3 linked regions of the Homo sapiens genome follow. The protein of the gene in region 2 purifies or fractionates together with the protein of the main gene of each other region. This does not show direct contact. Each region holds a gene or a part of one and is shown on either strand. Other genes may lie near its edges. The genes, in order: SHTN1, AHR and LDLRAP1.

Region 1 (3,653 bases), on a different chromosome or scaffold from region 2:
TGGTTTTGTTTTTTAAATGAACTAGCGGGAGTTAAGAATGGGGGGTAACTTTCAATTTTTATTTTATACATTTAGAAAATATTTGTATCTTTGTGCAAGGCACACATACTCCTTTTTAATTAAAAATATAAAGTAAATTAACCTTAAAAATTGATTTCTAAGGCTCTAGACTATAAGCTCCAAGAGGGTAGGGCTCACATTTGCTTTCTTCACCACTGGATTCCCAATGTCAGCACAGTGTCTGGCACAGTAAGATGTTTGCTGCATGCCCTAAGTGGTAAGTAAAATGCAAAAGAATGGGACTCTGTTGTTAAACTAAGTTATGTGTCTTTGTGCAGTACTTACCTGTTGAAAACCTGAGAATGCATAAACTTTGTAAAAAGGAAAATATACTAGTTCCAACGTGGTGCTATTTTTTAAAAAAAAGTTTTCTTCTCACTATTGTGTAGATTGAATCTAGATATTGTAAAATTGTTGAGTGCCACTGCAAATATTTATGCTGCCAATAACGTAAGTACCATTGCTCTTGCTTTCTTTCTCTCCTCAAACTTCTACCTTCTCATTCTGGGTTAACATGTCAGCATTATTGTTTCCACCAACCACTAAGACTGAAGACCAGGTGAACAGCAGAGTCAATCATTCATTTTTGTCTTCTTACTGCAACCTTGCTTCTTCCATCTGTCTTCTCTGCTACCACATGGCCTTCAAGTTTTTCTTTGAGCTGCTTTGTATTCTAACATCATTGTGCAAACAACAGATGGAAAACTGAACATGTCTTGAAATGAGACCTGCTATTCAGGTCAAAATCAGCCGACCTTTCCAGTTTTGCAATAAAGGCATCTTCACATTATCCCTGCTTCCCCTCCCCCTCCACTGTTTATTTCACTGCATTATTTATATTGCTCCAACGTTTTCCAGAGAGCTCTGACACACTTCAATTCTTTTTTCTTTCTTCCAAGTAATAAGAGAAAAATATTTACTCACCTTTCATTAAACTCTCTAAATAAAACGAATCATAATATTTCAAATCAGATCTACTTGGCCTAAACCTTCGGTAGAGTTCACTGCTAGCACAGCTATGCTCAAGCACAGAAAGACCCCCACAAAACCATCATTGGATTTTCAAATGTCATTCCCCTAATGCCATGCTTTGTCTTCCTTCTATGCCTTGGATACCTCTACCTAGGACTGTTTTACATTTCCTGAGCTATCTTCCTTCAACCTACAGTATGCACACAAATTCAAACTACACCCACAGGATGGAGATCTCATTGCAGACCAGCTTTTGAGTTTAGCCCATTGGTGAACTCCTCATCCCCCTGGATGAGCCCCAGGGCCATGGAAGACCCAACGACTGCATGTCAACAGGTAAGCCGGAACAAGAGATTCAAAGCTGATCTCTAACATAAGAGGAAGATCAGTAGGCTGGTGAAACGCTGAGATAATGAATGTACTACATGGCAGTGTTCCACAGCCAGTGGAAGAACTTCCTGGCATAATGACAGCACTGCACAATGGCTGAAGAGAAATACTGATACCATAATACTGTTATCTGAGATGGTATATGGAGATACATCCCAGATTTTAAGCCTATTTGAAATGTACAGGCATCTTGTACCCAAGTTGGACTTTCCATCACAAGTCATGGGTTGTCTCCAAATGCAATTCCTTTCCCTTACATAGCATTTTATAGTTTATACAACACTTTTTTTAAATTTTGCCATTAAAATCCACTTGGTCAGGTCTGTATTATTGTCCATTTTACAGATGGTAAAAGTGAAGCCCTGAGAGGCTGAAGAATTGCTCAGAGGTCATACACTACTACAACTAGTAACTGACATGGCCAAAATTTGAGCCCAGATCTTTTGACAATGAACTTGATACTATTCTATATCTGCCTCCCTAAACCAGCAGATCCTTAATTCAAACTGGTAAGTTCTTATTCAACCTCAAGAATTTGTCTGATATGTCGTCTGCAAGGTCCCTTACAAAACAAAAATTCAAAAGGTTTTTACGGCTGGGCACGGTGGCTCACTTTGGGAGCACTTTGGGAGGCCAAGGCGAGCAGATCACGAGATAAGGAGATCAAGACCATCCTGGTCAACATGGTGAAACCCCATCTCTAATAAAAATACAAAAATTAGCTGGGCACGGTGGCGTGTGCCTGTAATCCCAGCTACTCGGGGGGCTGAGGCATGAGAATCGCTTGAATCAGGGAGTCGGAGGTTGCAGTGAGCCGAGATTGCGCCACTGCACTCCAGCCTGGTGACAGAGCGAGACTCTGTCTCAAGAAAAAAAATAAGATTTTTACAAGATACCCACCTCTTGTGCAAATGACTCTGCTTTCTTTCGAAGGTCCTTCTCCAGCTCCAGGTTTACTTGCATCTCCTCATACTCTTCTACAGCTAACATGGACACTTAAGAAGATAAAGGAAAAAAAAAACCCAGACAATAAGTCACACAAATAATCAGGAATATGGATGAAAAACAGTGTTGAAAAGATTTTTCATACCAGCATACAGGTACCCTCATGCATTCCTGGTTGGCATACAAACTGATAAAACCTTTTTGGAGAGCAACTTGGCAACGTGAATCAAAAATCTAAAACTATTCATACACTTTGAATAATCCCACTTCCAGGAATGCATATGCTAAGATTGTAACACATGAGCATATACAGACATTTGGTTGCAAGGATGCTCTCTACCTCATTGCTGATAAAAGTGAAATGACATAATACTCTAACACAGAAGAATGAGTAAATTGTAGTACAAGAAATATTATTCTGCCATCAAAATTATATTGTAGAAGCATACTTAGTAAATGGAAAGACATCTGTGATGTATTTTTAAAAATAGATTGCAAAAATTAGTGCAAAGTGAATTCATTTTTGTTCTTTAAAAGCCACAGATAAAGCACATCAACAGCCATTTCACAGAATAGAAAATATACAAAAGGCCAATAAACATGTGGAAAGATGCTCATCTTCATTAGGAATCAAGGAAATGCAGAGTAAAAACACTTCTTACACCCATCCAAGAGGCAACTGGTAAAAATTTTAAAGCATGGTTTTATTAAATTTGGTATGCAGTGAAAAAAAACTGAAGATAAAATTTGACATTTGGCATGTGTCTTAAAGCAACTCTTGGACATGTGCACCAGATGACATGTCTAACATTTTTTATAACAGCATGACTCAGAATAGCAGAAATATGGAAACAGCCCAAAGTCTACCAATAGGATACTACTTAAAATAATTTTAGTGTAGTCATCTAATGGAATAGTATATAGCAGTGAAAACAAACATACCACAGCTATGCCTGTCCACATGCATGAATCTCACAAACACAAAAAGTTGCAGAAGGTTACAGGAAAAATGATTCCATTTACATAGAGTTCAAAAATATGCAAAATTAAACAATGCTGTTTAGAGATATAGACATATTTGGCAAAACTACAAATAAAAGAAAGGAAATAATAAAAATTCAAGGGAGGGGTAAGAGTAGAGAGGGATGTTCATGGGTTTGTAAGGTACCAGCAAGTATAAAGAGATTCCTTTTACTGGTATTTCCTCTGTCTTCCATATATATATAAATATATATATAAACATATTTAACAAAACATTTAATATGTATATATGTAGAGAGAGTTTT
Region 2 (3,653 bases):
ATCATTATTTGCCCTTTACCTGAAGAAAGTAGGTAAGCAGTGGAGTTAAAATATGCCTGAATTAATGAAAATGGTTGGATTTAGGAAACACAAATAATATTTGTGTGCAGAAAGATATTAATTTAAAAAAGAAAAAGAATACTTTATATAAAATATACATCCTAGAGTGTTATAGGTAGAAAAAAATGTGAGGCACTTAGATGAAACAGTGAAGGAGGAAAGCACTGAGATTATCTTTTTATAAAAAGCACCAAACCATTTATTTTAACATCTGAGATAAAAGCAGAGGTTAACATGATAGGAAAAACTAGTTTAGTTCTCTAACTTTGTATTTGGGGAACTAATAAGAATCCAGTAGCTCAAAACTCAAAGTATTTTATTTTTACTGTGACAGAAATAATTCAAATAGAGAATATTTTCTAATTTAAAAGAATCTTAGTTTCCCTGATAAAGTTTTGTATATTTTGTGGTGCCCAGAATAATGTGAAATGTAGACGGTACCTCACCACTCCGTGGCAGCACCCTTTCTATCTTGACTGTAGTATATGTAATTTTGATACCATTTTTAAACTCCCTTTTCTAAAAGCAAAAATTAAAATTTGGTTTGGAATAATTGTGAATAGCATGCATCAATGCCTCCATGTGAACTTGCTGACGTCCAACAGTGACAGTTTTATTTTTCCATAATCCTTCACAAACTAATTTAATCCAAAAACCAGGGTCAAAATTGGGCTTGGAATTACAGGAATCCACTGGATGTCAAATCAGGAAAAGGTCTGGCTTCTGACGGATGATGAAGTGGCTGAAGATGTGTGGTAGTCTGAGTGTTATTTATGTTATTTAATTCAGCTGGATATGTTTCATTTAAAACTCCATTCTGAAACTGAAAACAAAAATGGTGATGCAACTTATTGGAATAGATCTTCCAAGTATCTTAAGCCAGTAAATAACATTAACATGTATTTTTAAAATCTTACCCCTGAGAGTTGTAAACTTCAAGTTCCTTTACTGTTGCTAAATTTTAAATCTTTCACACAGTGAAGACATACTGAGGACATATTATGTATTAGTTGCATTTATAACCTGTTTTTCCATTAATTTGACAGGAAATTTTGAACATGGTACAGATGAGTGATGCAGCTGTCTCATTTCAGATTGCCTTTGGGTCAGGTAGGAATTGATGGGTCAAACAGCACAAGTCACAAATTACAGTTAAATATTCTCTATCATAAGTAGGTTTGCTTTGACCAGGTTTGAAGTTATAGGTATCAATGAATTGATTATATTCAGGAATCTTACACTGGAATGCAAAACTTTTCCAAAAAAGGCAGCTTCTGATTTTCTAAATGTTTCTAAATATTCCTAAAATATTACACCACAGGTATGATTTTCTTAACCGATTTCTTATTCATAATATACTTTTAATTAATGAATACTACTGAAAGCATAGTTCTAATTACAGAATCAAGTTACCAAAAGAAAATGCTCTGTCTTGTTTTCTTACACTGCAATGAATCTGGTTTCTATAACTGCTAGTAGAAAAAAGAAAAATAAAAAGGAAGGACATGAAGATGTATAGCTCTGTAGAGTTTTATAGATTACAGAGCCTTTATATTTTAGTTAGTGGACGTTCTGGAAACTTTAAAACAGATTAAAATCATATCCTTAATTGCTTCAAATAAAATCTACCTTTGTAAAGCCTACATAACTGGCTTCAGTAATCAAAATGTTAATTACTTCACAGATCCTCCAAAACATATATAAAATCTATAGTAAAAATCATATAACCTGTATCTTCAATGAATGGCAACACTGTAAATTCTTTAAATAAAAAGTTAGTATTACCTGGCCAGATAATGGTGAGTTTAAAATGATTTTTTCTCATTACTCATAACACAATTCATGTCACCATTCTCTTTAAACATACTGTACACAGCAGTGTAATCCAATAGAAATATAATGTGAGCCACATACAGAACTTAAATTTTTGGCTACAGTAGATTAAATAAAATACATTTCTAAAGTTAATTTTACCTGTTTCTTTTTACTTTTGTAATGCGGCTACTGAAAAAACTAATCATTTCAACATGAAATCAATAATAAAAGATGAGATATTTTACATTCTTTTTTCAAGCCAAGTCTTCAAAATCCAAAAATCCAATGTGTACTTCACACAGCACATCTCAATTTGGACTAGCCACATTTCAAGTGCTGAACAGCTACTCAGTGGCTCAATATTGAGTGTCTTAGCTCAATAACATGTACTCTGGAACATATGTAGGTCTATAGAATTATTTGGTTATTTACAAAGAAGCAGTGAAAAGTAGTGAGGGGAAAACACTGCAAAGAACTTATGTGGTACTCATGCAACTCCTTATTCAAAATGTAATTTTACAGAATTAACTTCTGTACAATTTGCTTTACTCAAGAGTAAAATATACTTTCATAGCAATTTTGTGAGACGGACTATAACTGAATATTATTCAATTTTAATATAATTGAAGGATGTAAGGAATAAGAAAAATTTTCACTGTCCTTTTCTATTAAAAAGCTCATATACGATTAGACAAGCAAAATGTATGAAAAAGCCAGAAAATACAATTAAAGATAAAGCTTCAGGTCATACTTTTAATTATTATACTCTAATACAGAGTAAACAGGGGTCAAGGAGCTTAATTTTAGTCAAGATATTCTTTAAAACTAAACTTAAATATACTTTAAAATGAACTAAATATTTTCTAATGGAAAAAGCATAAATGCAAACATGATGTATTCCTGAGTGGCCAGAGACAGCAGTTACTGACATTATGTTAACTTTTTTTTTTTAAGTGATCATTTTTAGATTTAAAGTGTGCTCACTGCCAGACGGATTCTGATGACACATTTAAACAACAAAAATGCACTATCAAGCTTGATTTCCATGACAGAAAGCCAGCTGAGTTACCTCTTTTAAGAAAGCCAGAAAAGAAAGCCATTCTACCTTAAAGGATGAGATGAGGATAGGGGAGGTAATGTGGAGGAATAGCTAGAGAACATGGAGGTGCCTAGGACTGAATTCCAGGGATATAATTAATCTAGGGTTTCAGAGGCATTGTAAGAAAGCACACTTAAATTTGAGTTTAACTCAATTTCAAACATATATAAAAAAATAGAGCTTTGAAGAAATTATTCTTAAAAATTGCAATACGTTTTTTAAAGCTTGAATTTTTAAATAGCCATATAATTTTTAAAGAATCCAGAAAGAATAAACCAAATTATCTATTTTAAACAAAATACTTCTAAAAACTAATTTCACCTGGTAATTTAGGTCATCTTATATTAAGGACACATTCATGTTGCTTCATTCCTTGATATCTTTCTCCCTCATGAATCAGGTGAATGATATATTAGTAACATACTGGAAAAAGTACAGGCTTGTAAAAAAAAAAAAGGTAGTCACAGATATAATAAAAAATGCTGTCTCCATGAATGCTGTAGATAACCGATTAAAATCAGCTGACATAAAAAATGTGTAACATGTCTATAAGGTAAAAAGAATCACTGAAAGATTTAATTCAGTTTGATAACACCCTTACCTTGTTTAAAAATGCCTGTTGGCCTGGCAGTACTGGATTGTACTGCATCTGACCCACGTGGGTGTGCTGAGGTTCTGG
Region 3 (3,653 bases), on a different chromosome or scaffold from region 2:
TTAATGCTTTAAAGTGCCAAGCTGTATCGTCTTTGGTCAGGAGCTGCCCCTTAGTCTCTAAGAGCCTGGGGTCCAGGGCTCAAACCCCCGCCTGCTGGGCCCTGAGGAAGCAGAGCAGGAGGACACATTCCCCTTCTGCGGCTGTGGGTGCTCTCCTGTGCTGGGGGGTGGGGGGAAAAATCACTGAAATCCAACAGCTTTCAGGAAGCAGGATGCCCCCAGGGAAATTTGGGTCCTTAGAAAGAGAGAAGGGACTAGAAATGCTTTGGTCACAGTCCTGATACCCACAGCCAGGGCAGAGCTTGCTCCAGGAGAGCAAGCGGGAGCCGATTACAGCACTGCACATGTCACGCAGCAGGAGACGTGCCTGACGCAGACTGGCTTCTGAGCATAAGCCAGAAGTCACTGAATAAATATTCAAGGCATCTTTTGGTTCTCAGAGAAAGAGCAGGGCTTAAAAGAAAAATCTCTCCCCTGCCTGACTGGCTGCAGCTCTGATCTTCAGGCTGACAATGCTGAGGGCTGGGAGAGGTGGCAGGCGGGCCCCAGAACTGGCTCCCCCGCAGCAGGTGGCTTTGGTCCATCACGTGTCAGGGCCGCTTGTGTCCGGCTGGCCCCGGGCCCTCAGAAGCTGAAGAGGTCATCCTGCTCTGTGCCGCTGCTGTCAGGCTTGTCCCAGTCGACAGGCGAGAGGCACTGGGCGTAATGCATGTCCTGGGCTGTCAGGCCAGTGTCCAGGACCTGAGGGTTTGTCCGAGACTGGGCAAGCCTGGAAGGCAGAGCTGTGTGAGCCGAGAGCCTGGGTGAGGGCTGGCGCGCCCCAGGGTCAGACGCGAGGGGGCACCAGTGGGGAACAGCAGGGCACATGGCCCAAGAAGGAAGCCCCCGGTGCAGGGGAGGTGGAGTAACCTCAGATCAAAGCACCTCCCCTTGAGAGTCAAACAGCTCAGAAAAGTCAGGGGCAGCCAGCGGTGCACCCACCCCCGGGAGAGGCCAGAGCACCCACTCTGTGCCCCAGCTCAGTCAGGACATGCCCAGGAAAGAGGAGAAGGGGCTGGTAAAGGGAGCAGCGGGGGTGGGGGTGGGGTGGGGAACAAGCTGTGGGAGGGAACACGGAAGATTCTTTGGCTATAACTGTGTCAACACCGTGCTGTTCGAAAAATAAATTTACAAAGGGAGACAACCTACATGTCCAAAAGAATAGGGGAGAGTCAAGTAAATTATAGCAGCTTCCCTTAAGAGAATGTTAGGCAGTCAATGGAAGAGGTGTTTACGAGGAGCTTTTAACAGCCTGGAGCAATGCTTCTGACACATCGCTGTTAAGTGAAAAATCAGGATCCCAAAATGCAAATACGATGAGCTGATCAATGCAAAATAATGTATATGTATAGGATTAGCATGAATTAAGCCCAAAACTCTGGGCTGTGGGATTACAGGATGGTGTTACTTTCTGTTTAATGCTTTGCTGATTTTCAAAATTGTTAATAAAGGGCACATGATGCTCAAAATAATGTGGAGAAAGCAAACAAAAGATTTTCTTCAGAGGGCAGGTGTCGTCAGCCAGTGAGGCAGGGAAGGTGTCACTGTCGCCCTCGCCCCAGGCTGGACCAAGGGGTTTCCACTAGTCCCTGGCAAGAAGGAGGCAAGGAAGAGGAAGGAGGAGGCAGGAGGGCAAAGACCCTGACTCTGTCCCCACCCGCTGGACCAAAAATCGCTGACTCCAACCCCAAACAAAGCCCCTGATGTGGGAGGGCTGTAGGAGGCTGCTGAGGGTCTCAAGTGAGAAAGGGAGGCCTGACAGACGGGGACCCAGGGCTCGGAACCCTGACCTGCCCAGGCCTCTCCTCAGCCACAGCCTTCTCAGTGGCATGTCCCCAAGCTGCAGGGGGCCACAAGGATGGCCCCTGGGAAAACGGGGAAATGCCACCAAAGGCTATACCAAAACACCTCCTCACTGTGCCTGACCTTCCCTGCTATGGAACGCTTCACGAGCTTCATTAAACACTTTCTCCCTTCCCCTGTTCATAAACACAGACCTGTGGAGGGAGCAAAGCCTGTAAAAAAAAAAAAAAGCCCATTTTTGAAGGCCACGCCTCCTCAAGTCGGAGGAAATCAACTTGAGCTGCAGTGTGTTTCGCTCACCTCAGACTGCGGCAGAGCAGCCACCAGGAATAGTTTTTGACTCAACAGTAAGAACTTTCTAACAGCTCTGGACAACGCTGGAAGGGGTTTCCTCCCCAGTGAGCTCCCTGCCCCTGGAAGCATTTGAGTGGAGGGATGGGACTGTTGCTCTGGAGGGGGTCTGAGTGGCTTGTGTTCTTAATCAGGGGAAAGGTCCCCAGGAGAAAGGGCAGCAGGGCCAGCCCACGCACACCAGGCCCCCTACCCAGCACAGGAAGCTAGCATTACCTCGAAAACGCTTCATCCAGGCCATCATCCAGCTCCTTGGGGAAAACAAAGCAGGAGATAAGAACTATGTTTGGGGGAGCCCATGCTCACAGCTGGGGCTTGTCCCAGCCCTGGGTAAGCTACAGGGACTCAGGACACAAGCTCAGGGTGGGCGCCTGGAGGCACGGCCTCAGGCAGGCCTCCTGCCTGGGTGCATCGCCAGCATCTCAGCCCAAGGACCCAAAGCTGGAGACGTGGGAGAGGAGAAAGGCCATGTCCCAGGGTGTCTGGAGACCCAGGTGGGTTCAGTGCCCTGGTCCATGCTACCTGCCCGTGAGACCTTGGGCAAGTCACTGCTCCACGTTGAAACTCAGCTTTTCCTTCAATAAGAGGAGGGCATTGGACCTGATGACTTCTATGGCTTTCAAATTCCAAAAGGAAGAGGGTGGGGAAGGGAGTTTTCTTGCCTTCATTTACTTCCAAAAGCCAAGCCAAAATTCCAAGTTCATGAGGGATAACTGATGCCAGGAGTCCCACAGCCTCAGCAGAAAAGCGACAGGTGAGGTCCCTCCATGGCCTTCTGGTGAGGATGGGCAAGTGGCAAGGGTGGTTCCCAAACAGCAGAGAACAGGCTCGAGGGACACCAGGGGAGCCCCCAGTACCCAGATTTTTAAAAATTAAAGAGACGACAAGTTAACATGTGATTCTGCAATGGATCCTGGGCCAGAAACAGGACACTGAAGGGGCACCTGGAGAAATGTGTAAGTTCTATAGATTATATAACAGCACAGTATCGTGTTTGTTTCCTGATTCTGACCAGTGTAATGTGGTCATGCAAGATGTTAACAATTGGGGAATCTGGATGACGGGTGAACAGGAATTCTCTGTACTAATTTTGTAACACAGTCTGAAATTATTTCCAAATGAAAAATTAAAATTAAATTTCAGGTTCCTCGGGGAGATTCCGTTGGCAGAGGTCATCACCCTTACTGAGATGAAAAAGCTGAGACAGAGAGGTCAGGGGGCTTGCCCTGAGTCCCTGAGGGAGTCAGGGACCAAGCTGGTGACTGCCCAAGTCTCTGGGTCCTCATTCAGGCGGCTGAGGGGGAGGGGTGGTAGGAGCGAGCTCTGCCACACCAAGAACAAGGGCGCCTTTGGCTGGTCTTGTGGTGGGCAGAGCCGTGGACGCTCAGGCCAAGAGGCCAAGCATTGTGAGGAGACAGCTGTGCTGGGAGCCAAGCCTGTTGGGGATGCAGCCTCAGGTT

What was found.
Region 1: the proteins of AHR (region 2) and SHTN1 purify together in Homo sapiens (affinity purification with mass spectrometry; one large-scale study listed by BioGRID and IntAct). This does not show direct contact.
Region 3: the proteins of AHR (region 2) and LDLRAP1 purify together in Homo sapiens (affinity purification with mass spectrometry; one large-scale study listed by BioGRID and IntAct). This does not show direct contact.

Annotation. Positions count from the first base shown.
Region 1 is NC_000010.11:116,942,602-116,946,254, forward strand, and holds part of SHTN1 (shootin-1), read right to left. Parts: intron 2,418-3,653; coding exon 2,323-2,417; intron 1-2,322. UniProt on the Homo sapiens protein: Involved in the generation of internal asymmetric signals required for neuronal polarization and neurite outgrowth.
Region 2 is NC_000007.14:17,340,151-17,343,803, reverse strand, and holds part of AHR (aryl hydrocarbon receptor), read right to left. Parts: coding exon 3,576-3,653; intron 884-3,575; coding exon 740-883; 3' UTR 1-739. UniProt on the Homo sapiens protein: Ligand-activated transcription factor that enables cells to adapt to changing conditions by sensing compounds from the environment, diet, microbiome and cellular metabolism, and which plays important roles in development, immunity and cancer.
Region 3 is NC_000001.11:25,563,964-25,567,616, reverse strand, and holds part of LDLRAP1 (low density lipoprotein receptor adapter protein 1), read right to left. Parts: intron 2,445-3,653; coding exon 2,410-2,444; intron 2,256-2,409; coding exon of another isoform or gene 2,201-2,255; exon of another isoform or gene 770-2,200; coding exon 625-769; 3' UTR 1-624. UniProt on the Homo sapiens protein: Adapter protein (clathrin-associated sorting protein (CLASP)) required for efficient endocytosis of the LDL receptor (LDLR) in polarized cells such as hepatocytes and lymphocytes, but not in non-polarized cells (fibroblasts).